Linked DNA regions of Homo sapiens: regions 2, 3, 4, 5, 6 and 7 are each reported to be linked to region 1. The links are microRNA targets in miRTarBase. Many come from high-throughput screens and were not tested one by one. Region 1 holds a microRNA gene; each other region holds the end of a gene's coding sequence.

The links. The annotated mature microRNA hsa-miR-130b-5p reads ACUCUUUCCCUGUUGCACUAC and lies in region 1 at 2,695-2,715, shown strand. An mRNA with a match to its seed (bases 2 to 7 or 8) in the 3' UTR can be bound and repressed. Matches are read on the target gene's strand: a 7mer-m8 pairs with bases 2 to 8, a 7mer-A1 pairs with bases 2 to 7 and ends in A, and an 8mer does both.
Region 2: the mRNA of N4BP2 is a reported target of hsa-miR-130b-5p. Seed matches in the 3' UTR shown: 7mer-A1 at 1,611-1,617.
Region 3: the mRNA of CDK12 is a reported target of hsa-miR-130b-5p. Seed matches in the 3' UTR shown: 7mer-A1 at 2,994-3,000, 7mer-A1 at 2,261-2,267, 7mer-A1 at 2,067-2,073 and 8mer at 1,527-1,534.
Region 4: the mRNA of KIN is a reported target of hsa-miR-130b-5p. The part of its 3' UTR that is shown has no 7-base or 8-base seed match.
Region 5: miRTarBase lists ZNF283 as a target of hsa-miR-130b-5p. Seed matches in the 3' UTR shown: 7mer-A1 at 759-765 and 7mer-A1 at 286-292.
Region 6: miRTarBase lists FBXO9 as a target of hsa-miR-130b-5p. Seed matches in the 3' UTR shown: 7mer-A1 at 2,758-2,764.
Region 7: the mRNA of FRMD6 is a reported target of hsa-miR-130b-5p. Seed matches in the 3' UTR shown: 7mer-m8 at 3,207-3,213.

Annotation. Positions count from the first base shown.
Region 1 is chr22:21,650,622-21,654,690 of GRCh38, forward strand. MIR130B (microRNA 130b) reads left to right here and starts at 2,683; the gene lies at 2,683-2,764. MIR301B (microRNA 301b) reads left to right here and starts at 2,360; the gene lies at 2,360-2,437. It also overlaps the pseudogene LOC107985532. RefSeq lists enhancers at 1,145-1,815, 1,816-2,487, 2,024-2,073.
Region 2 is chr4:40,153,806-40,157,874 of GRCh38, forward strand. N4BP2 (NEDD4 binding protein 2) reads left to right here. Exons shown (of 18, transcript NM_018177.6): 18 at 387-4,069. The coding sequence ends at 432. Among named protein-coding and RNA genes, the nearest start is that of RHOH, 41 kb to the right of the region's middle.
Region 3 is chr17:39,530,705-39,534,773 of GRCh38, reverse strand. CDK12 (cyclin dependent kinase 12) reads right to left here. Exons shown (of 14, transcript NM_016507.4): 14 at 230-4,069. The coding sequence ends at 3,458. Among named protein-coding and RNA genes, the nearest start is that of CDK12, 71 kb to the right of the region's middle.
Region 4 is chr10:7,752,748-7,756,816 of GRCh38, forward strand. KIN (Kin17 DNA and RNA binding protein) reads right to left here. Exons shown (of 13, transcript NM_012311.4): 13 at 1-3,395. The coding sequence ends at 3,333. Among named protein-coding and RNA genes, the nearest start is that of KIN, 33 kb to the right of the region's middle.
Region 5 is chr19:43,848,104-43,852,172 of GRCh38, reverse strand. ZNF283 (zinc finger protein 283) reads right to left here. Exons shown (of 7, transcript NM_181845.2): 7 at 156-4,069. The coding sequence ends at 3,532. Among named protein-coding and RNA genes, the nearest start is that of ZNF283, 23 kb to the right of the region's middle.
Region 6 is chr6:53,096,997-53,101,065 of GRCh38, forward strand. FBXO9 (F-box protein 9) reads left to right here. Exons shown (of 13, transcript NM_033480.3): 13 at 726-3,877. The coding sequence ends at 834. Among named protein-coding and RNA genes, the nearest start is that of FBXO9, 34 kb to the left of the region's middle.
Region 7 is chr14:51,727,601-51,731,669 of GRCh38, reverse strand. FRMD6 (FERM domain containing 6) reads right to left here. Exons shown (of 14, transcript NM_001267046.2): 14 at 943-3,925. The coding sequence ends at 3,641. Among named protein-coding and RNA genes, the nearest start is that of FRMD6, 78 kb to the right of the region's middle.

The sequences.
Region 1 (4,069 bases):
TCAAGTGATTCTCCTGCCTCAGTCTCCTGAGTAGCTGGGACTACAGGCGTACACCACCACACCTGGCTAATTTTTGTATTTTTAGTAGAGACAGCGTTTCACCATGTTGGCCAGGCTGGGAAACTGCCACTTTTAAAACCATCAGATCTTGTGAGAACTCCTTCACTATTACGAGAACAGCATGGGGGAAAGTGCCCCCATGATCCAATCACCTCCCACCAGGTCCCTCCCTTGACACTTGGGGATTACAATTCTAGATGAGATTAGGCTGGGGACACAGAGCCAAACCATATCACCCTGCAAATCCAAGGGGGCACTCCTCTGGTCCAGCCCCAGCTCCTATGGGCTGTCAAAGCCCACTCCTCCCTCTCTGTCTATTCCCCCACCTCCGTTACCACACATAGGTAAGCAGTGAGGTGAGGAGTGTTGACCAAGAGGAACCCAACAGTGCACAAGTGGGAATCCCTGGGCAACCAAAGCCCATGCTGTGGGAGCAGATAAGATTGTTCCAGGCAGAATGCAGGACAAGGCCAAAAATAAAAACTGTAGTGGCAGCAGAACTCACTTTCAGTGAACACTTACTAAATGCCAGGTGCTGGGCCAACAATTTACACAGCATCTCATTTGCTGCTGGCAACAGCCAGCCCTATGGGGCAGGTTTGATTGCCATCTCAATTTTGCAAGAAGGCAACAGGGGTTCATAAAGATTCAAAACCACCTCTGCCTGCCTCAAAAACATTTGCTCTCAGCCATTGGACCGATAATAAAGCAGGAGGGGTTGCAGGGGCACAGTTGTCTAAGCACAGCTCCTCCCTTCCCTCTAGGAGCCGTTCAACAGCCCGGTGATCAATATACTTCCTAGTCATCAGCGAAGGGTAGGCGCTTAATGAATGCTTCTCCGCAAAGTGGATCACAATCACGAAGAAACCAAAGCTTACACTTCCGTTCCCCATATCTCCCACAGATCCAAAAGACCACGGGGCCCAGGACCCGGTCTCCATAGCCCAGCCATACCCGGGGGTTTTCAGGAAAGCCTCACTCGCGTCCTGCCGGGCGATCCGGGGTGGTTGAGTTGGGAGGGGGGCTACCCCAGTTTGTAAGCCCACCACGTCCAAATATCCCATCCAGGAGGCGCAGAGAGCAACCTCAGCATGCATAACAAAGCAGCCCGCGGCCGCGTTCACAGCAGGCTTGGCGGGGGTTCGGGAATTTCCACAGGGTCTCGGCCTCCCCCACTGTGGGCTCGCGCCTGGCGCCCCTCACCGGGCTTCCAAGCGCTCTTGTCGGTGTCGCTAGAAAACTCGCAGAGATTGGAGCTGAGAAAAGGCGGGCAAAGTTCCTTTTGATAAGTTATGAATGGGGAAAAAGTGTTTGTAGAACTCATTGTTAAAACCACGGAGCCCGAGACTCGGCCGGCGCCGGGCCAATCGGAACCCGGAGGCTATTTTGAAATCTCTCCCGTCTCAGCCAACAGGCATGCAGGAGGCGAATCCCCGCGCCAGCGCCGGCCAATGAGCGCAGCGCTATGCTAAGGAGTCGGGGGCCCGGCCCCTCCGACTGTCAGCGGGTTAAAGATGGAGCCGGCAGGCGAGGGGCCGCCACGAGGTGCAGGGTCGTCTGGACGGGGACCCGGGGGCAGACGATGGCCGGGATCCTCTTCCGTCTAACCCTCCGCGTCCTGACCGGGCCCTGGGCGGAAGGGATGTCTGCGTGAGTCAGCTGTGTCTGAGGAGGGGATCCTGGGCTGGGCTGGGCGGCCCTACTCGGCGGGTCAGGCGGAGGGGCGCGGCCGGGATCCCGGGGGCCCTCTTTGGAGCAGGGAACTCTAGAAGGGCGGGGAGCCCCCATCCTCTGCTCCACTCTGGGCCTCCAGGCAGAAGAATATGTTAGAAAAGAATCCAGAGTGTATCTAGTGCAGGGCAAGGGGCCAGGGATGGAGTCGTCAGCTAGAAGGGGCGCGTCGTCCCGGGGTGGGGCCGCCCTTTTTCTCCTGGAGCCGCGGGCCGAGTCAGGGCGCAGGGTCGTCGGGCTGTACCCACCCCGCTCCGGGCGCTAGCCGGCTTTGGACTGCGGCTGAGTGCGGGTTCGTCTTTGTGTGTGCGCCCCCTCCCCTGCGTGGCCCGTCAGCTCCTGCTCCGGGATTGGAACAACCCCCTAGTCTGGGGTTTCTCCTCCACCTCAATCCGGAGCGTTCTGGGAAAGGCCTGGGTGTCCTGGGTTCTGAAGACCCCAGGGACGCACCCCGCTGCGGTCTCCTTCCCTGCCCGGATGGACTGGACGGGGGCTCTGCCCCACCCACCCATCCATGGTTGAGCTTCCCGCCCTGCGTGTATTGGGGGTGGTGGGGTCCCCCCTGCTGGCCGCAGGTGCTCTGACGAGGTTGCACTACTGTGCTCTGAGAAGCAGTGCAATGATATTGTCAAAGCATCTGGGACCAGCCTTGGGGATCTCCCTCCCTATAACCCTCACCTCCCACTCCCCAGGCAGGGCCCCTTGGGCTTGCAGGCCCTCCCCTCCCCCCTACCCAATTCGCTCCCTTCTCCATGGAAACTTGAGATTCTAGACAGGCCTGGGCCTCTGGGGTCAGAGGGCACCCTTTCCCCCCGGGCAGAGGCCCCGCCCCAGCCAGCCTGCATTCCAGGTCTCAGATCCCTGCAGACCACCCTGGGGGAGGCACTGGCAGGCCTGCCCGACACTCTTTCCCTGTTGCACTACTATAGGCCGCTGGGAAGCAGTGCAATGATGAAAGGGCATCGGTCAGGTCCAGCCTGCTACCCTGGGAGGGGGAAAGGGAGCTTGCTGCCTCACTCCACTTTCCAGTTGAGAAGGTTGAGGTGCCCAGAGGGTAAGTGTTTCCACTGATTAGGCACAGATGTGAAGCTGGACTGGACCCTCCATCAGAGGATCAGGTGGGTGCAGAGCTGGAGAATCATCCCTAAACTCTCCATCCTGTCATGGCTGGACAGGTGCAGGAGCAGACCTCCCCAGCTTCTGAAAAGCTCTTGTTTGAAGGTCTTTCCACATTGGGTCCCTGGGGTAAGACTGGAACTCCAGGCCTGGTCAGGGTCTTAGGGGAAATACACGCCCAGTCTTTTGCATGGAAGATCATTCTAGGCCTGGCTTGGGCCCAGTCCTTGCTGGAAGCTTGAACAGGGCCAGGCTCTGGAGAGAATGTTCTTCTGGGTGGCAGTTGGGTAAGGGGGTAAGGCAGGCCTTTCAGGAGGCAGCCTTCACCCCAGGACGTCAGCTGGAGTGGTACTATGGACTGACCAGTTGACTGATCAGTTGAGTGGACTCAGCTGGAGTGGTACTATGTGAGATGGATGGGTGGACTTGGGATACAAAGCCTGCAAATGATGTCTACCAACCATGCCAGTTTGTTCTCTTACAGAGAGGTGTGCCCTGAACCTGCAGGAGGGACTGAGGTGTCTAACATTCCAACCGTCCCAGCTGGAATACAGGGTTGGAGCTGAACTTCCAAGGAGCCTGACCCCAGGCATGCTTGGATGACCACCTCTACCATCAAGACCTGACACGGTGCAAAAGGTTTCTACGTGCCCAGTCACAGTCATTCAAATCTTCTTTAGAGGAGGACTAGGTTTCCAGATGGGCTTTTGGGAGTTCCCCTCATCCCTAGCTGGGCGCATTGGGAAACTGCTTTACCCCTACCCTGGGGAGAGAAGCCCTGGCACCCGTGGGAGGAACAGGGGCAATGACACATGCTCCTTGGCTTCCTAGTCCTGATCCCTTGGGGTTCCTTGATCCTAGGGTCATCTGACTTAGATCCATCCTCCCTTCCTCTAGGCACCAGGGGCCATGGCTGGAGGTGGCCACCCCTCAGTCCTGTACAGATTCTGTACCCACTGGCTGGAGACCCCCATGCAGCTGTCTCCTGCTCTTGCTGCGGGGAGACTGAACTCAGGGCTCTGCTCACTGGCTCCCTCCCAATGGAAGCCTTCTCTGGGCTTCACAGCATTGAATATTCCTCCAGAACAGCTTGTTAAATCAAATTTTTTTTTTTTTAGATGGAGTCTTGCTCTGTCGCCCAGGCTGGAGTGCAGTGGCACGA
Region 2 (4,069 bases), not on the chromosome of region 1:
GTTGAAAGCATTGCATGGCCAGATTAATCAGACTTACCTGATATATCAGAGATTTCTTCTTGGTGCTTTCATGATGCACCAAGGACTTTATTCTTCCTACAGCATACTCTTTTTCATAAAGGTAAAATTCAGGCCTCACAGGTTTTGACAAATCTTAAGTTATACTAAGTCAAGAGCAACCTCCAGCTTTAAGATTGTATTTGTTTTGACCGTAGATAAAAGGAACACAAACCTAGATGTTGGTCTTGGATATTGACTTAATAAGGGTCAATACTTTGGTAGTAAATATTATATTAAGCGTAGGTACTTGGAATTGATTACAAGGTATATTCCTTAGCTAATTTGAAATTTTCATCTTTAAAATAACTCTTTTCTCATTTCTGCAGGTTCTCTGAAATTAAACCAGGGTGCTTGAAAGTCATGCTAAAGTAAAATAAACATCCTTGAATTAGAAGTATGAAGGTTTGTAGGTTAAAATTACTTTTATTTGCAGTAATTCAGTCAATTCTACCCTAAAGATGTGTTTTATTATAAATAATATTCAATTATGAAACAAAAAAATTATGATGTTTTTCAAAATGCAAGTGAGGTTTGATTTTTTACTGAATCAAATGCAAATGTTACCTGTTAAAGATATTACAGAGAAATTTTATTGATTACAAAATATGTAAGAAAATTATCAGCTACAGTTTTAAAGTTTAAAATGCTCTGATTGTTTCTCAGAAAAGGTTACCTTTGTATTAATTGTTGTATGACATTTAGTAATGTCCTAAAAGTCTTTTGTGAGAGGTATTTAAAGTGCTTTGAGACCTGATTCATGCCCCCCAAAGGGTGGTATTAAAAGAGGAAAAAGGACATAGTAGTGGTAGTAAAGAAAAAAAGGAGATCTAACAAAAACACTTGAATATTTTTTATTTTCAAAACTAAACACATAAAATGCTTTTATTTTGCCATATCCTACAGGAAGGAAGACATGCTTTTGCCCTTTCTTCTGCTTTGTATATGACCTTGATCTTTTACCTTTTGTTCTGTTCTTCTGTGTGCATTTTATGGAAAGAAAGTTGGGTCTGAGATTATATTGTAATTTTATACTTTCTATAGACAGAAAGGTTTTCAGAGAAAAAGAAATGGTTAAATATCTTCCAGATGTTGCTGCCTTATCGAAATGCTTCTAGAACTGTCTGTATAAGTCGTATTTCAGACAGTACTAAATACTTATATTTTATTTTTGAGGCATGTAATTTTAAAACTGCAGTAGGTTAAAATTCTATTAAACAAATATAGAAAATATTTTGTTTATAATTGGCCTGGTGTGGTGGCCCACGCCTGTAATCCCAGCACTTTGGGAGGCCGAGGTAGGTGGATCGCCTGAGGTCAGAAGTTCAAGACCAGCCTGGCCAACATGGTGAATCCCCGTCTCTATTAAAAATACAAAAATTAGCTGGGTGTGGTGGCGTGTGCCTGTAATCCCAGCTACTTGGGAGGCTGAGGCAGGAGAACCGCTTAAACCTGGGAGGTGGAGGTTGCAGTGACCCGAGATCGAGATCACACCACTGCACTCAGCCTGGGTGACAGAGCAAGACTCCGTCTCCAAAAAAAAAAAAGAAAAAAAAGAGAAAATATTTTGGTTATAATCATAAGAAGAATCCTTACAATTTAAAATATTTTCACTTTTATTTTGAAAAAGAGCCAACTTTCTCAAAGGAAGCTGTCATTAACTTCTGTTGTTTGGTTAGCTAATAAATTCTGTTAGTATGCAAGTTAAACCTGTGTAAAGGAGGTTATAATGTGGTAAGGTATAATTTTCCAATATGAGACAATGGCTTAAATTTGCCTTTGGAGATGGAGAATATTTTCAACATACATAATTTTAACAAATAGTTTTGTTGCTTTTTGTTAAGCTTAAAAAAAAATTTGGATCAGAAATTATAGGATTGAGCTGGTACCAAAAGAATCCTAAAGTACAGAATGGTTTTCCAAAAGAGCAGACATTTCAATGAAAATAAAACCCCAAAACATTTTTTTTATATATCATGATTGCATGCTTTTAAAATAAGGAGGCTTATCATTGAATTTTAGTTCCATAAAAATGAAAATACATGTTTATTATTTAGAAATGGTTAGTGACTGGTATTGAAGTATTATTCACACTTATGTTTGTAATAATTTATTTAAAGAATGCCAACAGTTTAGCACACTTTTGTAATCTCTAGAACAGTTCTATACATTAAAAATAAACATTAAAAATAAAGCAGTTCCTTTAAACAACTTACTATGAAACTATAATTGTTAATGAAATAAGATATTCCTATGTATACATTAGTATGATTTAAGGGTATGAAAAACAGTGCTAAAATGTGGAGTTAATTGGAATGTGTGCAGCTGCATACTCACTTTCTGTGTTTTTATATTTCCTTACCTAGTTTTAAAAATCATCACTTTTCGGCACTTCAGCTAGACTTATTTCAATATTATAATTATGATTAATGAAGGAGCAGTCAGAAGTAGAGGTGTGGTATTCCGTGGGCAGAAGTCAAATGAAAAAAGCTATATTGTTTACTTGTTTACTATATCAATGTTAATATTATGCCTTATTTTGATAAATCAAATAGTATATCTTAATCATTGTTGATAAATATACAGGCAAAGTTTGAGCATCATATGTATTTTTATGAAGCTGCTTAATTCCAAATTGCCTCCCACCCCACTATCTAGCATAGTTTAAGCAACACATAATTTTGAAAGAAAAGTTTGTAATCCCTCCTTTCTTTTTTTTGCCCATTTCTAAATCCTGTATGCCCGCAGTAAAGATAGTTTGGGGATTTTAAAAGTTTTCTCTATTACCCATTTCTAAATCCTGTATGTCAAAGATAGTTTGGAGATTATAAAAATTTTCATGTATTGGTGTAGGTTGAGTATCCCTAATGAGAAAATTCAAAATCTGAAATGCTTCAAAATCTGAAATTTTTCGAGCACAGACATGATGCTCAAAGGAAATACTCACAGAGCATTTTACATTTGTAGGTTAGCGATACTCAACAAGTAAATATAATGCACATGTTCTAAAATATCCCCCCAAACCCCAGCAATCCAAAACACTTCTGGTCCTAAGCATTTTGAGTAGGGGATACTCACTCAACCTGTATATTTGTGCTAATACATGACTCATTAGAATGATTCTTTGTAAACTTAATATTTTAAAAGTACAGCACTTCTGTAGTATGGAAGGTTTCAGTAATAATTATATTCATTCAGTAGTCTCTTACCATTATCTCCCAGATGGAAAAAGAGGACTAATGTGGAAACCCCAGAGGGTGTCCAGTTGGACCAGGGAGATATTAGACACTTAACAGTATTTTCAGTCTGTCCATCTCTTTATTCCAATGTGAGAAATGGAAGTGTTTTTTTTTTTACGTTTATTGGCTCTTCATATTTCTCTACATTATTTTTAATGTGCAGTTTCTTCAATTGGTTAGTATTTCCATACTATTTGCAACTTTATGGCCTTTAAATATAGGACATATTATATAGCAGAAATTTTGACTTTAAATCCTCTTGAGTAGTATATTTTGAGAAGAAAAGCTATACTGCTCTTCTGGATGGTTTCCATCCTTTATTTAGGTCTTTTCTTTTTGAATTCAAGTGTTTTGTATGCTTAGAAAGTAGACATGTATAATATTGAGATCGGTTATTTCTGAGCTGGAAATTGGAAACTTTGGAAACTCAGGAAATTGCTCTGACAATGTTTTAACTGCTCTCAATTTAAGAAAATGACGAAATGTATAAAAAAGACAAAAATAACGTGTGCTGTTTTTTCCAAGTGCTTTTTCTAAGTGCTTTTCCATTGTGCAATGAGGTGAAGTTTGGTAATTTTTCGGTGTAGTAGTTAAATATTGCTCAATTTTTATTTACATGTAAAGAAAACAGATTTAAATGTTTATGTGGCCAAAAGGTGTCATTTAAAAGGTAAAATAAGTTTATGTAGAATGTATGTTCATGGTGCTTATTTTTAAAATGTAATTCAAGTTTACAGTATTACTTAATGCTTCTTTACAGAATTTAATAGAGA
Region 3 (4,069 bases), not on the chromosome of region 1:
ACATTTCATGGTTTTTCCCAACTCATTTATTCTCTAGTTCCTAGTCTAGCGTTTTCAAGCACCTCTTCAAATCCTGATAACCTTTTGCTGGGAGGGGGAGTTAATGAGTCTATAATGATTCTGAGACAGAGAACCCCTAAGATAAAGTGGAGGAAAAACGTCCTTTATACATGATTAGATATGCTCAGGGGGTACAGATTAAGAAGTAAATGCAATGGAGCAAAAGTGGTATAGTAACAGGAAATATTTAATTTTCCAATCTCCACTTTCCATTTTTATAAACTGAAAGAAAAAAATTTAATATATTACAAAATATCTGTACATAGACAAGATACACCCAATGGGGGTCAAAAACGAGAGAGAAAGGAATCAGTGTCAGGAACCTAAATCAGGGAGAATGAGGTGGCAACTGACACTTTTCTGATGCAGCATTCTCTCTCAAAACCTGCTGGTAACCATTTTAGCACGGTAACTATATATGCATATTATATATACACACACACATACAAGTGGTTGGGTGATGTCTATGGCATAAGCTAATAGAAGTTCTACTTGCAAATTTGTGCTAACTGCCCTGCTTTAAACGTATAGATTTGATGTTGCTTTCAAATACTTATCGTTCCTATGGACAGTTGAAGAAAAAACTAAGGAAACTGGGTCAAGTATATTTGTTTTCAAAACCACAAAAATGATCACGGTCAAACCAGTTTTGCCTCCCACTCATGAACAGAATCAGATTTCTCATCTGTTCAAAATAATGTATTTAATAGACAATATCTCTCATTGTACAATAATTAAAACAAAACGAAAACCACTTTTGAATGGAATTAATTGGGTCTGTAATTTTCAAATAGTCAAGGTGAAATTCTGCCAAACCTTTACTTCCATCATGTTTATAGATAACGTAACTGAAAAATTAACAAATACCTTTTCTTCCTCCATACAGATTCCAGGATATTTAAATAAGTTTTTTTTTCTCCTCTGCTTTTAGAAATAGTCAAAACTACCAAACTTTGTTTTCATTTTAAAAGACTCCCAAAATGGGGGTGGGGGTGAGATGGGATCATACATACACATACACTCACACATACACTCACCCCCTTCCCTAGTAGGGATGAGGGAATGGAGGCTTAAGTATATTATTTAGGATATTTGGCATAATTAAAAATAAGAGGTGGGAGAGGGGAGGGAAAAACATTATTGATGACTGCTGATAACCAAAATACAATGAAATATATAGAGAATTTTATTCATATTTGATGGGAAACCAACTTTTTTTCATTGAACAGATACTTCTGAAAGTATCCCAGGCTCACGTTCTTTAATAAAAAACAGGGAGTGGGGCCCAATAACTCAAATTCAAATATTCTAAAACACAAAGGCCCATGTCTGAGGACTAAGAAGTCAACAGACAGAAGGTTCAGATGAACTTTAATGCGATTTACCAATAGCATGTCAGTAAGCCTAGTAAATCTAACTGGACACACTGGTATAAAAAGCCATCAATGCCAAAATAGCTAGAAGGCTCTCTTTCTAAATCAGTGTTTGGCCCTGGAGGCAAGGCCAGATCAAAAACCAGAGAATAATAAAGAAATACACACACCGATATCTAGCTATATCTCATTAACAGGGGAAAACAGTCTTCAAGTAAGTATCTGAAGAGGGTTCTTCTTTCATTTCTTTAAAGTTTTTTTTTTTTAAGTAATGCACCTTTCTCTTATAAGTAGATTTTATTTTTTAAAATAAGAACTTGGCATTGAAACATGAAACTTGAGTTTTGAAAACTACCCTCCAAGATGCTGAAGTATGTTTACTTTTTCTTTGTAAAAGGGGGCTTAACCTATGTTTCCTGAAGGTCTAAGTCTGTGCAGATAAATTATATGACATGTATCTGTTTTTAAAACACTCTATATGCTGGTACTCACATAGAAATAGAAGCCAGAATGAGAAGCCTCCCAAATTATCCCATCCTGACAGCCCTTCCCTTTTTCATTTCCTGTTTATGATAAGGCAAAGTTCTTGCCTGGAAGCACAATTTAACCCCTTTTACCAAAACCAAATCCAAATCTCTTTGGAGGAAAAATCCCTAAAAGAACTGGCAGGGTACACATGCTGGGATGTGGGTATGTCAATACTGTTCTTCCTCACAGTATGCTGTTTTAAAATTATTTTTTTAAAAAAGGTCAGGTATTGATGTATCTTCAGAAAAATACCCACCCTAAACTAGGTTACATTTCCATGTATCTTCAGGATTTGTTTTTCTCTTTGACAATATCACAATGCTCTGTTTGAAAGGTTTTTGTTTTTTTTTTGACATAAAAATATATGTGTAAACAATATGCTAAATGCTGTTATTAGCCCTCTAGGAATGGAGGCATCATCTCTAACCACAGCTCAGCAGCAATGTCCAAGCTGTCCACACTTACAAATCAACTTCCCCATCAGAACATGGTTTAAAAAACAAAACATTTTAGAATTGAAGAGTTACAGAGAACAATGTAAGAGTCTGAATTTCCTTTCCTTTATTTCAAAAAAAGTAAAGAATTATCCCAGGTTCTTGGGCATCTCAACGATTTTTTCCAAACAAATGCCTCAAAGAGAGAGAAACAGCGAGAGCGAGCAAGCGAGACAGAGAGAGAGAGAGAGAGAGAGAGAGAGAGAGAGAGAGAGAAAGAGAGAGAGAGAGCACACATCAGCAAAAAAGGAAAGAGACTGGGTAAAGTCTACCTACTTGCCCAAGAATGCCACGTTCTACAACCTGCTTTATGTGCAGGGAGAAGGGCGTATCTTTTGTCAAAGTGGAGTAAACTTTAAGGATGAGTAATTTATTTGGAAAAAAAGTATGTTCAAGATGCTCAATGGGGAAAAAGTGTTCACTTAAAAGCAAAATGTGAGATGGTGGAGAGGAAAGAAACATTTATTCAAATCAGCCAGGCCACTCTGTTTCCCTTATAGCAAAAGCCAAAGAGCAGCTCAAATTTTGTGAACACTATTCTCTTTAAAGGAAAAAAACCCAAAACACCTAAATTAAAATTCAAAAGAAAGAAACCACACACAATCCCCCACCCCAAAACTTTAAAAATCAAAGAGCCTCTCCTGAGCCATCTCAATACTGAAACTGTTCTTTCTCTCTTCCGATCAGTAAGTGCAGGCAATGAACTAATAAAACATTTACTTTTCAATGTAATGATCCTCTCCATATTCTCTACTTGTATCTACTAAGGTAGAGTTGAAGTAAATGTTCTGGCTATAGCCCATCCAGGGGGAACTGGTGCCAACATCATTATTTCGTAAGTCGCCTGCTAGTAGCAAGTGAGCAAGGAATACAACGGACAGCTTTGCAGTAGCCAAATGCAGATGATTACCTCGCTCTGGCAAATGATTTCATTAAAGATTCAGAGAACTGGATGGAAGGATGGATAGGAAAGGAATCTTTCAGGACACTGAAGTCTCTGGGTTAGTAAGGAACTCCTCTCCCTCTTCCCCCTCTTGGTGGGACTCTTGTAGGCCCCCGATAGAGTTTTCCATAAGCAGAAGACTGAGTTGGGCCCCCCCAGTGAAGGCCTGCTCCTGAGCTGCTGGCCCCAGTGGTTCCTGGCCCCAGCTCCCCATAGTTTTGCAATTTGGTCTCTGCATGTACCACAGAATTGCTGCTTCCCTCAGCCTTCAGGAATGGTTGCCCGACCACCGGGTGTAACGCTAAGGGGACCCTGGCAAAACGGAGGTCCTGGTCCCCTGGAAACTGCACTGACCCTGTGCCCTGGTAACTGCTGGACTCCCCAAGGTGGCTCAGAGAGCCTGAGAAGGTCCTGTTCTTCACCAGGGTCTGGACCAAGGATTCTGTCAAGGCTGGACCAGAGTTTCGTTCATCAGTGTCAATGGCACTGAACCCTGTTTCAGGCCCATCAGTGTTTCCATAAGTCCTGTTTGGACGGGGTCGGGTGGAGTACTCCATTGGTCTCAAGGCCTGGTGCTCATGTGGCAGGTGGCCAGGAGGCTCTGCTTCAGGCTGGGATAAAAGTTGCAGCAAGGCGGCTGTCACGGCTGGGTTCAACTCCTGGGGGGCGCT
Region 4 (4,069 bases), not on the chromosome of region 1:
GCCACAAAAACCTAACCAAAACAACATGGAGGAACCTTACATGCATATGTTCTACCAGGTGAAAGAAGCCAATCTGAAAAAGCTACACCCTGTGTGACTCCAACTATATGACCTTCGATGGAGACAAAACTAGGGAGACAGTAAAAAGATCAGCGGTCAGCAGGGATTTGGGGGGAGACAGGGAACAGACAGAACACAGGAAACTTCTAGGGCAGTGAAACTGTTCTGTGTGATACTACAGTGGCAGATGCATGTCATTATACATTTGTCAAAACCCACAGAGACTGCTCTAAAAAGTAAAGTCTATGTTTGAAATAAAGAAAAATAGCTTATGATACTTCAAAAATCAAAGTCTAATATGAGACCTGTTGTTAGTTATCTGCAGTCATTTTGCTTAGCATAAACTCTATCAAGTTCTACAGACTCAGAGGGAAAAAACTACTGTGAAGTCTATAATCGTATTTTTATGCTTCAGATATTTTTTATTGAATTTAACCTCAAGTATGCTGCCTCATTTCATTCTGAAATAATTTCAGAAAGACGTTGGAGAATTAAATGTGGGAGGCAGACATGAAACATTTTTTCTCTGAAGAAAACCACCAAGTTGATTCCAAACGTACATACTTGGGGGAGGCATATGTAATTTGTCTGGTTTTACTCATCACTATTTGTTATCAGGGAGAACCATTCTCCTTTTTGAAATTCTTCAGACCAGATTCTTAGTAGTCCAGGCTCAACTTCTTGGCTTCATTTCTGGACATGACCACTCACTGCCATTTATTCAATACCTACTATGTGCTGGACTTCATGTCTGATGATTTATATGTATTTTCTGTAGGTCTCCCATCAACCCTGCTGAAAAACATTTTGACAATTTATACATTAAAAACATTGCAATTCAAGAACATTAACATTCTAATATTACAAAGCCAATGAACAGAACTGCCAGAATTTGATCTAAAGACTGCCCACACCCAAAACCCAGTTGCTTTCCATAATGTGCTGTCAGGTTACTTTGGAAAAACCTTAATTCATCCCTGAGGAACATTTTCTGTAAAGCTTCTGCCATCATCCTATTAGTATTTCTTTACTGCCTCTTACATTTCTGCTAACAGCATACGTTCTCCCATCTTCTGAGAATAGAAGCAATCAGCCCTCCCTGACTCTCAGTTAAAGAGAGAGATCCCAGGGTTTGGCACCATACCTGTGTCTGACGTCAGCTTATACCCATCCTCATGTTTGAAGTGATCATCCTGGTATGGTCTGTTTTTTGTTTGAACTCTTGTAGAAGATCAACTCAGGCAAGGCGTGGTAGCTCACACCTGTAATCACAACATTTTAGAAGGCCGAGGCAGGAGGATTGCTTGAGCTCAAGAGTTTGAGACCAGCCTGGGCAACATAGCAAGACCTCATCTCTACTAAAAATCAAAAAAATTAGCCAGGCATGGTAGTGCATGCCTGTAGTCCCAGCTACTCGGGAGGCTGAGGTGGGAGAATCAATGACCTAAGCCCAGGAGGACGAGGCTGCAGTGAGCCATGATTGTGCCACTGCACTCCAGGCTGGATGACAGAGCAAGACCCTATCTCAAAAAACAGAACAAAAAAAAAGAGGCGTAGTGGCTCATGCCTGTAATCCCAGCACTTTGGGAGGCTGAGGCGGGCAGATCATAAGGTCAAGAGATCGAGACCATCCTGGCCAACATGGTGAAACCTCATCTCTTCTAAAATTACAAAAATTAGCTGGGCGTGGTGGCGCATGCCTGTAGTCCCAGCTACTCAGGAGGCTGAGGCAGGAGAATGGCTTGAACCCGGGAGGTGGAGGTTGCAGTGAGCCGAGATTGCACTACTGCAATCAGCCTGGGTGACAGAGTGAGACTCTGTGTCAGAAAAAAAAAAAAAAAGAAAAAGAAAAGATAGATCATCTCTCTCTTCCCGGTGCTGCTGAAGGGTAAGATGTAAACCTAGAGTGCTCAAGAATGTAAATGTAGAGAGCCAGCACAGGAGCCAGAGACAGAGCGGAAGCCCAGGGAAGGCTGTTCACACCCGGTCCCGCTGCCCTGGAAGCTAGCGTCTGCTCCTTTCAGTCATGTGCACTACAAATATCCCTTCGTTTTTCCTTTGGCACAGGCAAATGTGGGTTTCCTGTCTTTTGCATTCCCTAATAATACACTGCCCTACTTATTTCAAACTGTATGGTTAGGCAGGGTGCTGTGGCTCACACCTGCAATCCTAGCACTTTGGGAGGCTGAGGCAGGAGGATCACTTGAGCCCAGGAGTTTGACAGCAGCCTGGGCAACACAGTGAGACCATGTCTCTAAAAGTAAAAAAATTAAAAACAAATAAAACTATAGTTCAACATTGCTGGTAGGACTGTAAAATGGTATAGCTGCTCTGGAAGAGTTTGGCAGAAGCGAAAGCTTCTGTTCACATAAAATCCTGTAAATGGGTGATCATGGCAGCATTATTCACAATAGCCAAAAAGTAGAAACAATCTAAATGTTTATCAGCTGATGAATGGACAAACAAAATACGGTACATCCATACAGTGGAATATTAAGCAGCCATAAAAACAAATGAAGCACGCCTACATGCTACTGCATGGATAAACCTTGAAAACATGATGCTAAGTGTAAGAAGCCAGTCATAAAAGATCACATATTATATGATTCCATTTATAAGAAATGTCCAGAAAGGGCAAATCCATAGAGACAGAAAGTACATTAGTGGCTGTCTAGGGCTAGGGCAGAGGGGAAAAATAGCGATTGACTATTAAAGGGTTTCATTTTGGGGTATGAAAGTGTTTTAAAATCAGACAGTGGTGATGGCTGCACAATTCTGCAAAAATACTAAAAACCACTGAATTGTATGTATATTTTAAATGAGTGAACTGTATGGTATATGAATTATTACCACAATAAAGCTGCTTCTATATTTATAGTTTGACATTTAAAATTTAGTCACACTTAGAGTTCAACTTTACTACTCTACTACTGAAAATATAGAGTGTATGAAGGATTTCCTCCAATTACATGATTCTAAATTGTCATAGATAAAACACTTTATAATAACATTCTTTAATGAAGATATAAACTCATCAAGTAAATTACAAAGGAAACAAAAATAACAAGGACAAAATTACATAGTTTGATACCTCATGAGACATAATTAAATTCTTCTCAAAGTTTAGCTGAACAACTATACAGTAATATTTTCAAAAACCTGTTTGTTTTATACAAAAGAATATACCCTAACACAGTAGAGTCTCATAATGCCTTGGCGAACACCAATTTGATGCTTTAAGATTTTAATGTATTGTTAACAAATTTTCAAACTCAGGCAAGTTTAGAAATGTCTTCATATTGAATTCCTTCAACTCTGCGTCCTTTTAAAGGGCCCTACAAATTAAAATAATTTAAAATAAGGTTAAAAACACATATTCCTAAAAGACAAAAAAATGACACCATACTTATGGATACAAATTTGCCTTTTCCGCATCCCTAAAATACCATTAAGATTGTTAACATTTGTATACATCTATGAATTTTAAGAATAATCTATGGCATTCTCATTAAGAACTACCATATTTTCTTCTGTGACATCTGACATACGTTATCAATAGACATTGTGGCAGAGACCTGCAAGCTGTTCAGTATCTCCTCTGCTTCCTGGATAAATAGCCAGTTTCCTGGCTCCCTTGTGGTTAGCTGTGGCCATGCATGGAGCTCCAGCCCATGAAAGCAAACAGAAGTGACGGTCCAGACGTGCTATAACTGACACACAATCTGCCAAGCTCCTTTTGCCTGCCCAGTGCACACAGACATGGCAACTGGAGATGCCACTTGAGGGCAGTAGAGGCACTAGCTGGAAGGACCCTGGGTTCACAAATCGCCACTTAGAAAGAGTTCCCTGATCAAAAATACCCATTTGGGGTTTTTAGAGTGAAACGTTAACTTCTACCATGTTTGTGCCATTGTCCATTTGGGGTTTTCTTTTTTTTATAGGAAATATCATTTTGTAAGCATTACGATACTCAAACATGTTTGTCTAGGTTGGCTGTGATAGTTACACT
Region 5 (4,069 bases), not on the chromosome of region 1:
CAAAAATACTAAATAAAATGGCAAAATGAAATCAAGCAATGCATCAGAAGGATACTATGACTAACCTGGAATATCCAGGAATGGGAAAAAGTCAGTGAATCTATCAGAATAAATTATCACATGAACAAATTAAATACTATAGAAGTGCAGAAAAAGATAGTGAAACGGCATTTAATAAAACTCAGGAGGCACCACTACTTAGCTACAACAAAGATTTTCACTCATAACTGAGACCATGATGCTGCCATTCCATCATAGCTAACAACCAGACATGGTGACTGAAATTCTCTTTTGGTTATAGCAGCAGTTCCCAATGCAATTTCACCCACCTACAAAGATAATAGGTCATGGGAATAAGTATTTCAACAGTGAAGTTTGCCATACACCAGTTTAAACAAAGTTCAACCATTTTCTTCACTAGAATACTCCTTAGTCTTTTTTTATTTTTATTTTTTTGAGACGGAGTCTCGCTCTGTCGCCCAGGCTGGAGTGCAGTGGCGCAATCTCGGCTCACTGCAAGCTCTGCCTCCCGGGTTCACGCCATTCTCCTGCCTCAGCCTCCCCGAGTAGCTGGGACCACAGGCGCCCGCCACCACGCCCGGCTAATTTTTTCTATTTTTAGTAGAGACGGGGTTTCACCGTGTTAGCCAGGATGGTCTTGATCTCCTGACCTCGTGATCCGCCCGCCTCGGCTTCCCAAAGTTCTGGGATTACAGGCATGAGCCACCGCGCCCGGCCGTCTTTTTTTTTTTTTCACTTCTCTTTAGTCTTTTGATAAGCTGGTGAGGTGCTTTTGCTTGTTCCTTAGGAGGGGATTTAGTAGATGCTACTTTATAAGCTTCTTTAACTGTAAAATCCTCCTTCATTGTCAAGTACTAGTAAGCACTGGTGATTCCTTGAGATATAATTTCAGAAATGTTGGGATAAGGCACCATGTCTACATTTCTTGGTTAACAGGCAAATGTGGCACCCAGAGGGAGTGGCATAATAGCCAGTTACCAATAATATATCCTGTTAAAACTCCCAAAGTACTCTGCTTTGTGTTACAGTTGATTATTAAGAGTGCAACTGTTGGCTTTTTATGCCTTTGAAAAAGTGCAATCATGTAGAATGATGATCACTAGATGGTGAATGACTGACTGAACAGTGATATTACGAATCCCCTATGTGCACAAAATAGAGAGGTCAGGTGTAGACCTATGACAAGGAACCACAGACATTTAGTTATCAATGCATTAGTTCTGATGGAACTGACATTATTTTCAAAAAGAAATAATTTTTAAAAGGGTCGATTTCTAACTGTGTGAGTATATAAACACACACTCTATTTCTTCATAACTAACCTGCCTTGATGCTAGCACTAAATCATGACAGGCACCTGGTTGAAAGTGGTTGCAAGAAGCCATCAATTTTAAGATGCATTGTGATTTCCAAATAGTAAAATATAGCCAGGCGCAGTGTCTCACACCTGTAATCCCAACACTTTGGGAGGCTGAGGCAGGTGCAGGAGTTCAAGATCAGCCTGGACCAACATGGCAAAACCCCATCTCTACTAAAAATACAAGAATTAGCCAGTATGGTGGTGCACACCTGTGTATCCAGCTACTTGGGAGGCTGAGGCACGAGAATCACTTGAACCCGAGAGGTGCAGGTTGCAGTGAGCCGAAATCACACCACTGCACTCCAGCCTTGGTGACAGAAAGAGAGATCCTGTCCCAAAAAAAAAAAAAAGTAAAATACATACCATATGATCACACATTTCCAAAGATCATTGATCAAGGCTGACCAATCCTATTAGGTATATAATGGATCTTTATAACAGACAACTCCAGTAGTTACCATAAGTGATCAAACTTGGCACTGGTGATACTGGGGGAAATGGATACTATCTGCTTCTGAGGTATTGCAAGATGAAGTACACATCACCATCTATGAAGTGTTCTGGTAAAAAATGTTTAAGCCTCTATTTCCAACTTCATGTTACGAGAAATGTGAAGGAGAGGCCCATATCAAATTTCACCATGAGGAATGAAACTAATGTGTGACATTCTATAAAACAGCTTTCCTAAACTCTTCAAAAGTCTGGATTTTTTCAAGTCTCATTTTTTTAGCTCAGCTTAAGGGATAAACTCTGAATTAAAATCCCCTCAAATTCTTTATACTGTACTAGATCTTATCCAGAATGAACTATCTGAAATTCAAATGGATGAGTGGTTATGGGAAGCTTTTCTGAATTCATTCCTCAAAACGGTTGTGCCTCTCCTAAGAATTCACCAGTAGTAATACTAATAATAAAGACAATATGAACAATAGCTAATATGTATTAAGCATAGGCTACATACCAGATACTCTTCCAAGGATATGATGCATACTAAATCCATCTAATCTCTGTAACAGCATTATTAGTTACCATCAGCATTTGAAACATCATGTCCAGAAGAGATAAGCATTTTGCTCACCATCCTACAGGTAGTATGGAGGTGAAATGGTGATGACAGTATGGTATTTGCCATGGATAAGGGTTTTCCTACATTTGTTACATTAACAGAGTTACTCTCTAGGATGAACTTACTGAAGTTTAACAAAGACTGAATAGTGTTGGAAGGCTTCTGCACATTTAACATATCTGGTATAAATTATCTTATGCTGTTACAGGCATTAGAAAATTTTGATTCCCTCATTTGCCAAATCTTGCTATAGTATGAATATTCTGCTATTCTAATCAGAGAGGTGCAAGTGAAGAATTTCTTATTTAAATTGTCACTTGTCTCATGTCTTGAAAAGTGTGAGTCTTGTCTCAAATTATTTCTGGGAAAGAACAAACTTTGTTTTCAATTCTCAATCATTTATGGACTGATAATTTTGTAAAACAGAATGTTATGGAAATGTCAAATTGCTATAAAAGTTCCAAATATTTACTCACTTTCCACGTTTATCTCACAATTGACAGATGACAATTTTATGACTGCACCAGTCTCTGGATAATAATTTGGGTAGCATTTGTCTAAAGGCCTTCCTATAATTCTAATTCAAATGATTTCTCATTTGGATGAATTCTCTGATGTACTCTAAGATATTTACTGTGTCTATAAGCCTTCCCAAATTCCTTATGTGCATAGGATTACACAGCAGTATGAATTCTCTGATGTGCAGCAAGAACTGAATTAAGTTTAGGTCCTTCCCACATTCCTCCTATTTAAACTCTTTTTAACAAATACCAATTATTTGATGTTAATCAGACCTTATGTCATGAATGAAGATCTTCACACATTCCTTACATTTAAATGATTTTACATCAGTATAAATTGATATCCAATAAGACTGTACAGAAGTCTAAAGGCCTTTTCATATTAATTATATTCAAAATATTTCTCACTAGTATGAATTGCTGGATAGCAAGATAATTGCCCATAAACAGAAATGAATGGCTTTTGCACAACCCTTACATTCACAAGGTTTCTCAAGAGTAAGAGTTCTTATTATGATAAGTTGTCTATACACACACACAAAATATTCTTTTACAACTTTCAATCATAAGGTTTCATCAGTATCAATTTTCTCATTTGAGTAAGTTGTCCACAGAAAGGCTTCCCCACATTCGTTATATTTGTAGGGTTTATCATTACTATGAGTTCTCTCATGAACAAGTTTTGAGCCACAAGTAAAGGTCTTCCCGAATTCCTTACGTTGATAAAGCTTCTCACCAGTATGAAATCTCTGATGAACACTAAGTTGATAGCCACTACCAAAGGCCTTCCCACAGTCTTTACATTCATAAGACTTCTCATTAGTATGGACTCTCTCATGCTTAACTAGGCTTGAACCCCAACTGAAGGCCTTCCCACATTCCTTACATTTGAAAGGTTTCTCACCGGTATGAATTTTCTGATGTTGAGTAAGGTGATAGCCACGACTAAAAGCCTTCCCACATTCTTTACATTCATAGGGTTTCTCCCCTGTATGGATTCTTTCATGTTGAACAAGGCTTGATCCACAATTAAAAGCCTTCCCACATTCCTTACATTCATAGGGTTTCTCACCAGTGTGAAATACCTGATGTCGAGTAAGT
Region 6 (4,069 bases), not on the chromosome of region 1:
TGTTTATTTAGGAGAAAAAAGGACATTACCAGAGGCATTATTTGTAGCTGCTAATTATCACATTGACTTCCTTGTAATATTTATAAAATCACTTGAATTCTCTGCTTTCGTTTGTCTCTCTCAGTGGTAGCATAACTTACCACCTACTTTCCCTCCCCCCTGCCTATAATTATGCTGTTGATCATGCAATTATTAAATAATCAAATTATATTCTAGGAATATAGTTATTTCTGAAACATTTTAAGAAGAACCTAATGTCTATAGCTTCTGACTTAAAAATTCTATCTTAGGAATCTCTGAAGGACATCAAAATCACATAATTTTTAATTGAGAAATAGTAGACACAACCTAAATCTCCAATTAAGTAAACTGTGGTACAAGCAGACAGTGAAATATCATCCTGCCACTAAAAATGGTTTCTGAAAAATAATGATGTGGGAAAATACAAATAATTAAATGAAATAAAAAGAATTACTAAGTTTGATCTCAAGAAACACTAGAAAATATCCTTCATATGGCTCTGAGTGTTGGAATTGTGGTGATGTTTCTGTATACATTTCTAAATTTTTCGAGTTTTCTACAATATGCCTATATTATATAGAATTTCCTAAGATGAATTAAAAATAAAAAAGGCTAAAGCATAGAATAACCTTCCCCAAACACACAAGGATTTTAAATGAATTGAAATTTCCTCATACTAGTAATTTTGTGCTTTTTTTTTACAGATCAACTGGTGAGACTGCAGTCAGTGCTTTTGAGATTGACAAGATGTACACCCCCTTGTTCTTCGCCAGAGTAAGGAGCTACACAGCTTTCTCAGAAAGGCCTCTGTAGAGCCTCAAGTCCAGTCCTCTATCACTTTTGCATGAATTAAAGTATATAGCGCAAAAGAGCACCTAAGTTATAAATGTGTGTGTGTGCGTGTGTGTGTATATATATATATATATATATATATATATATATATATATATATATATATGGAATTGGAACTTATTTTAAATTGTTGGAGTTCTTTTAAGAAGAATATAAATTGATTATTTTTTTTATTTAAAGGGATAGTTGATTCCTGGGGTGTTTTGAAATTAAGTTGGAATTAAGTTGCTTAAGCATATTTATGTTGTGAGAAACCTTAATATGAGGTTTATCATGCCCTTTTTCAAGCAGATTTATGAGCAGATTTCTGTCACATAAGTCGTCTTCTGCTTGAGTATCCTAATATTTCAATGCATCAGGGGAGCGCTCCACTGGATAAGCATTTTATTTCCCGCATGGCATAATGTTTTTGCACTAAAGGCTCAAAGTGTGAGAACCTGTTCTGGATTTGTTTGAAATTATTTCACCAATAAAGATCATAAATAAATGTTTCTTTCAAGAAAATATATTTGGATGGCCTTTTTAAAGTAACAGGATATTTAATAAGAGTCCTAGATAGCCAGCGGAGACTTTAAGAATCATTGCCTCTAGCTGGGTGTGGTGGCATGCACCTGTAGTCCCAGCTATTTGGGAGGCTGATGCAGGAGAATAGCTTAAGCCCAGGAATTTGAGTCTGGGAGTTTGAGTCCAGCATGGGCAACATAACAAGACCCCATCCCTTATTAAAAGAAAAAAAAATAATTCCTCATTTCATCATTGGTCTTTATATGTAGCCACAAACACTGACCTCATGTAGGCACCTTACCAATATATGACATTAAGTGAGAGTGAATCCCTTAGGACTGGAACACTTCAAGCTCAACCAACTGACTCAGTTGTCATTCTTCACAAAAGAATAGTAGAGGATCATGTAAACCTGAGCCTAACTCTTGTTCCAGTATGAAAGTTGGGGGAGAGCACCAGCCACCTAGGAAAACTGTATGTTACCTTTTTACTCAAAGGAGTCCCCCCTGCCCAGTAACAGTCCTATTAGTGTTTAATTTCAGAGTTTGTGTCTGGTAGACCTCTACCTGATTCAGATTTGGTTTTGTTGTTTCAACCATAGTTAGAGACAAATTCTCATGTACTTTCAGAAATCAATATCTGCAGCCACTGTTACTTTTAATTGACATTAAGAGACACTTCATAGGTTCCCACAATTCAGTATGGGATAGGCTTTTTAAAAAGCACATACAGACCAGGCGTGGTGGCTCATGCCTATAATCCCAGCACTTTGGGAGGCTAAGACAGGCAGATCACCTGAGCTCAGGAGTCCAAGACCAGCCTGGGCAACATGGCAAAACACCGTCTCTACAAAAAAAAAAAAAAAAAAAATTAGCCAAGTACAGTGGGGCACACCTATAGTCGCAGCTACTTGGGAGGCTGGGGCAGGAGAATTGCCTGAGCCTGGGAAGTGGAAGTTGCAGTGAGCCAAGATCGTGCCATTCCACTCCAGCCTGAGCAACACAGTGAGACCCTATCTCAAAAAAATAATGATGATAGTACACGTTATGTTAAAGGTGAAATGTGCATACAGAAGGAAGAGAGTTGGCCAGGTGTGGTGACTCACACCTATAATCCCAATACTTTGGGAGGCCAAGGCAGGAGGATTGCTTGAGGTCAGGAGTTTTAGACCAGCCTGGACAACATAGCAAGACCTCATCTCTTCTAAAAATTAAAAAAAAAAAAAATAGGCATGGTGGTACACACCTGTGGTCCCAGCTAGTTGGGAGGCTAAGGCAGGAGGATCACTTAGCCAGGAGGCTGAGGCTACAGTGAGCCAAGATTGCACCACTGTGCTCCAGCCTGGGTGAGAAAGCGAGACCCTGTCTCAAAAAAGAAAAAAAAGAGAGGTTGGCCTTTTGTAGCAATCTGAGAAGTGTGTTTTTCAAGTTGGAAAGGAAGGAGAAAAGCAACTTGCCTAAGATAAGGTAGCTCTTCATGATATGACTGTTATTTCTGATATACAAATAAATAGAACATGATTAGGACATAGTCAAATATAGCTAGAAAAATATATTCCTAAGGAAAGTGAGATTTGAGGAGTCCCTGTTGTTCTGCAACATCCCTAGATTGAATGATCTGTTGCAGATGGTGGATACCAAGTTCAAATTTAAAGATTTCTTTGTAAGCAGTAAAGTGACTTTCACTTATTTAACTTAGAACTGGAAAAAGTAACTTTTTTCCAGATTACATTTTCTGTATATTTGTAAAATGCAAAAGCAATATATATTTGTTGTGAGAAAATTAGAATATACAGATAAAATAAAATTTAAAAAAACACCCAAAGATAACCAGAAGAAAATTTTTGCTATGTAACCTTTTTCTTCTGGTCTTTGCAAATCCTGCCGTAGAAACTTTTTAACTTCAGGAGTGTCCTTCCTTTGCTCTATTAGGACATTACAGAAACCAATACTATGAAAAGCTGACAGCAGTATCTGGATTAACTTTTTAAAAACAATGAAAGCATTTTACAGAAATTACATTTCAGATCGTGCTGGAACTGTGTTCAGAAGATATCCTCAGAGGGAATCTGGCCTGAGCACCATCATGTTTAATTGCCTCCTCCTGTCTTGCATTTTCCTCCCAGCCCCCTTCCTACCCCTTAGCAGAGGGCCAGGTGAGGGTGCTTGGGGCCCATGGGGGCTGGGAGTGTAGACTTCAGTTACACCCCCAGCCCCCAGGGGAAAGCATTAGCCTTGAATCCTCAATCCCAGGCCCTCTACTAACCACTCTCAACCTATGGTATTTATCTTTTGATTATTCTGTGCATCTATAAAAATGGGATTATATTGTACAGAATGCTTTGTAAGCTTTCTCTCCCCACATAAGAATGCCCTGTAAGCATTTTGTTAAATATTTTTAATGACTTTAGAGTCCAACTTTATACTCCTCTTTACGCATTTTGGTTTTCTAATTTAATGGTAGTGTAAACGTTTTTGGAATAAACATTCCTGTGGCTAAATCTTTGCATACTTCTTGTATTATTACTTTAAGATGTTTCTAAGAAGTAGAATGACTGAATCAAAGAGTGAACATTTTAAAATATCTTAAAATATACATTTGGTAAATAATGTATACACTGTAGAAAAACTGGAAAATAGATGAGCAGACAGAATAAAATGTAAATTACCTGTAGTCACCTCATCCATTATTC
Region 7 (4,069 bases), not on the chromosome of region 1:
AAGTTTAACTGTTTCCTCAGCTGTGAAATGCGAGTGACAGACAACTCCTTGAAGGGTTGTGAGGATTAGACACGGTGTTTGTACTATTAGATGCATAGTAGGTACCAAGTATTTTCTTTCCTGGACTCCAAATCACAATTTATCAGACACTGCAAAATTCGTAACACTTGACTAGAAAACTTGTTTTGGACCGTGTGAATCCAAATGGCTCTGTTTCACAAAAGTTAAATGTCAGATTTGACAGCCCTCCTTTTCCCACCTAGTCATCAGGGGCATACTCAACCATTACCTTATCTAATTCTCCAAACAGTCCTTTAAATTATTAACTCCATTTTTTGGCCAAGAGAAGTGGCGCAAAGAGAAGGTAATGGATTTCCCTTCAGAAAAAGAGCTGGGGCTTTTCGGAATGCTGTTGACTCTCAACTCTGGGCTCTTTCCTTAATGCCATGCTGCCCTCACGTTCAGCTTTGTGAATGCATGCTTTTAAATGCAACCATTTGTTTATTTTATAATTAAACCAACAGTCCAATGATGACGGTTTTCAGGTTTAAGTTACTTATTTTGGTTAAAATATTTCCTTTTAAAGGAGAGTTTTTTTCAGCTCCATAATTTGAACTCAACAGTGGCTGACTACCACAAACTCCTGGAAGCTTGATTCCTTCACATCTGCAACTAAGAATAATAATAGTACCTGCCTTCTGGGGATATGAGGATTAAATGACTGAACACATGAAATCTGAATACATGTGAAACTGGGTCTGGCACATGGTAGTACTCAGCATCAGTTATTACCATCGTCACCACCAGGACTGTTTTACTTGGAATTCTATCACATGGAACCTTGTTGTCCTTTACTGTGCTCCATTACAGCAAAGAACATGAAGAAAACACTGTCACTCCTTAATGCTTCTCGCTTGAGAGCTCTAATAATCAAAAAGGCAATTTAAAGGCAAAAAAGTAACTTTATTGACTGCTAATCTTACCATGAAATATCTATAAGAAATAATTACAAAATAATGCAGGTTTCTTTTTACATACTTTTGGTATCATCTTGATATGATGATCCTTTCACAGAAAGGATTATTTACAGTTTATGTAGATATAAAGCTCACTGTTGCATATACAAATGTAGATGTGCAGAGGCAATATATACCAAAACGGGTATACTGACAAGCGATAGATATGTAAGAAATGCAGAATAAATAACAGCTTTATATATTTCCTTTCCTTTTTATTTTTAAAAACAATTTCCAAATACAAAACATGGATTATTCAAAGTGGATTTTTCCTATACATATATATAATTCTGCTGCAAACAGTGGATCAAAAAGCAGAAGTGTTCTTAGCATGATTCATCTTTGAAAACCCATAGAACTATTCATAAATCCAATTAGAAAGAACATGTGCAAAACCACCAACAATGTCAGCAAAACCTCAAAGATCTGATTTTGGTTGAAGTAGAGAGAAAATAAACATAAAGCAGTACCTGTTTACAGTAATTAAATATGTTTTTTCTTTATCTTTCTTTCTTAAATATGTCTTTTTTTAAATGTTTGCAAGAAACTCTAAGGGCTAAGGAAATGCACTGCATTATGATCTGGGCTCCTTAGAGTACAAACCTCACCAGGCTTAAGCATCATCCATAAGAAATGGTGGATTACTTAATGACTTATAAGTAAAACAGTCATTAAATGATCCTTTCATACTTTAATCCTCTTATGCAGAGACTGAGATACTTCCATACATTCCAATATCTGCAACTTTGGTTCTATTAAAGTATTTGATAAAAGCAAAACAATTTTGTGACCACAGAACTCTATGGAACTTTTTTTCCTTTTAAAGTGTCAGGTGAACCTAGCGTGATAAGGCAATGTTGCCTACACATCCGCGACCCAGCACAGGAGGGACAGCACAGACAGGGCATGTTCCAGCTCACCATTTGTTGTATAATACTGACTCCCAGCCAGGGGTAACACTGCTTATGTTCCACTGTACCCTACATCTATTTCGTTACCTGAAAACATAATTTTGTATAAAAATATGATTGTTTCTTTAGAAAATAATATATAGTTTTTTTAATAAAACTGGGCAGATAGAAAAAAATGGTATATCAAAATATGGTAAACAAATGTTGTAAAATACTAAATCATTAAAAATATCTTATAGAAAGACATTGTGCTATGAAGTTCTCTCCTGAAGTGTGAACTACGTTTTTACTTTACATCAAAAGATTGATAAATTCACTCCCCTGACTTGGTTTCATTATATATTGTAACAGCAGCACAACAGGTAACTGTCTTAAAAATGGCCCTTTCTCATACACTACGTCTTCTGTACACTTTTACTTCAAAATTAACAAGACACCCCCAGGATCAGTGGTTTTCAACTTTGTTGCATATTAGCTCCATCTGGAGAACTTTAAAAGAAAAGGCAATTCTACTTGGGTCCCGCCACAAGAGAATGATGTAATCGGTCTGGTGGGAGACTCAGTCATTATTTTTTAAAAGCTCCCCCCAAAATTCTGTTATACAATCAGTGTTGAGAATCATGGCCAAAGGCACATGAGAAAACAGTCATTCTGAACTCTACATATATCAACTGACTGTCTGCAGGTATCATTCACTCAGTGACATATTCTCAATCTTAAGGAATTCCATGTATAAAAGATAGTCATGGAAGCCAAAATGAAGACATAGTAAGCTTTAAACACATATAGACATACACAATCCCATGTATTTATATATGTATAATATATACACAGAGTATTTTGGTTAAGCAGAAACTAGCATTGCCATAATTTGTTCTTGATAATTAAACAAATAAAGCATCACCAAGCACCAACGTTTTCTAAGACATTTTCCAAAGTTTTAACAGACACTGGTTTTGTAAACTCCACAAAATGCATTACAACATGAATATAATTCATCTGTTACTTGGATGTGGAACTCAAATGAATCCTGGAGCTTTCTGGAAGATCACAAAAGAGGACATGGCACTGAGCGGGATGAAGGAGTCACAGGCATCACAGCATGCACTTCTGGTTTTCTGCTTATTGCTTATGTGCTTCTGTCACATACGTATCTTTGGCTTGCTACAACCTTATGATTTTGACCACTCCATCAGTGTTCACTTTGGGACAGCCTCAGGGAGGAAGCAATGGGTATACAGAGCAATCATCTCTCTGTTAAAAGAAGAGAGAATCTTCCCTCTTTCCTCTCCCAAACTATGAGCATTTTATGTGGGAGTGGTAAAAAATTTATAAGCAAACAAATCTAACATCTTTCACGTGATAAAAAAATGTGATGTTACATGTAACTGAACTAAAAAGCATCAGATGAGCAAACACACCACACTCCAATATTCTGAAGGCTTTGCAATCAGTAAAGCGCATTTCCTTCTGAAGGATCAGTGAACTTCCGGGCACTTGTCTTGCTGTACATTTTCTGTAGTTCTTTTACTTCTGTGTAATACTTAAAGTGCAATTGTTCCAAGGCTTTTGTTTCCATCATCACAAATATTATAAAGAAAGAGCTATGTTTAGGGTGAAGAAGATATGGCACAAGTAATATGTAAAGAACTTATGACTTTCGCATCCTCTAGCAAACAGTAAGCTGCCTGTACAGCTGCACACAGACGGACTTTACACAACAAACTCTGGAACTTCATCATGAGTGAGATCCAGAGAAAAGTATTTGCTGGTTCTTTTGACTGGAAAAGCATCTTGGATGTTGATGCACTGCTGGGCCAAGCAACTGTTGCAATAGAGGCCTTCCTCATCCAGTTCATGGCCACATCCAAAGGTGTAACTCTGAGCAGTGTCCTGACACAGACCTGCAATGCGCAGGAAGTCTTTCTGGTAAAGTCTGATGTCATCGAGGCTCAAGCTGTGTCGATCAGTGGAGGTCTTTGGTTTCCGACATATAGTCTGCAAGATAAGGGAAGGATGAAACAACTTTAAAGTGAAAGGTTAGAATATTTGCCTTGTAAAGAGAGATGCTACAGAACCACAAAAGGTTAAGTAATCCTTACATGTTAGAAAGTGGTTTCCAATCTGTGGTTTCTGGGCTGT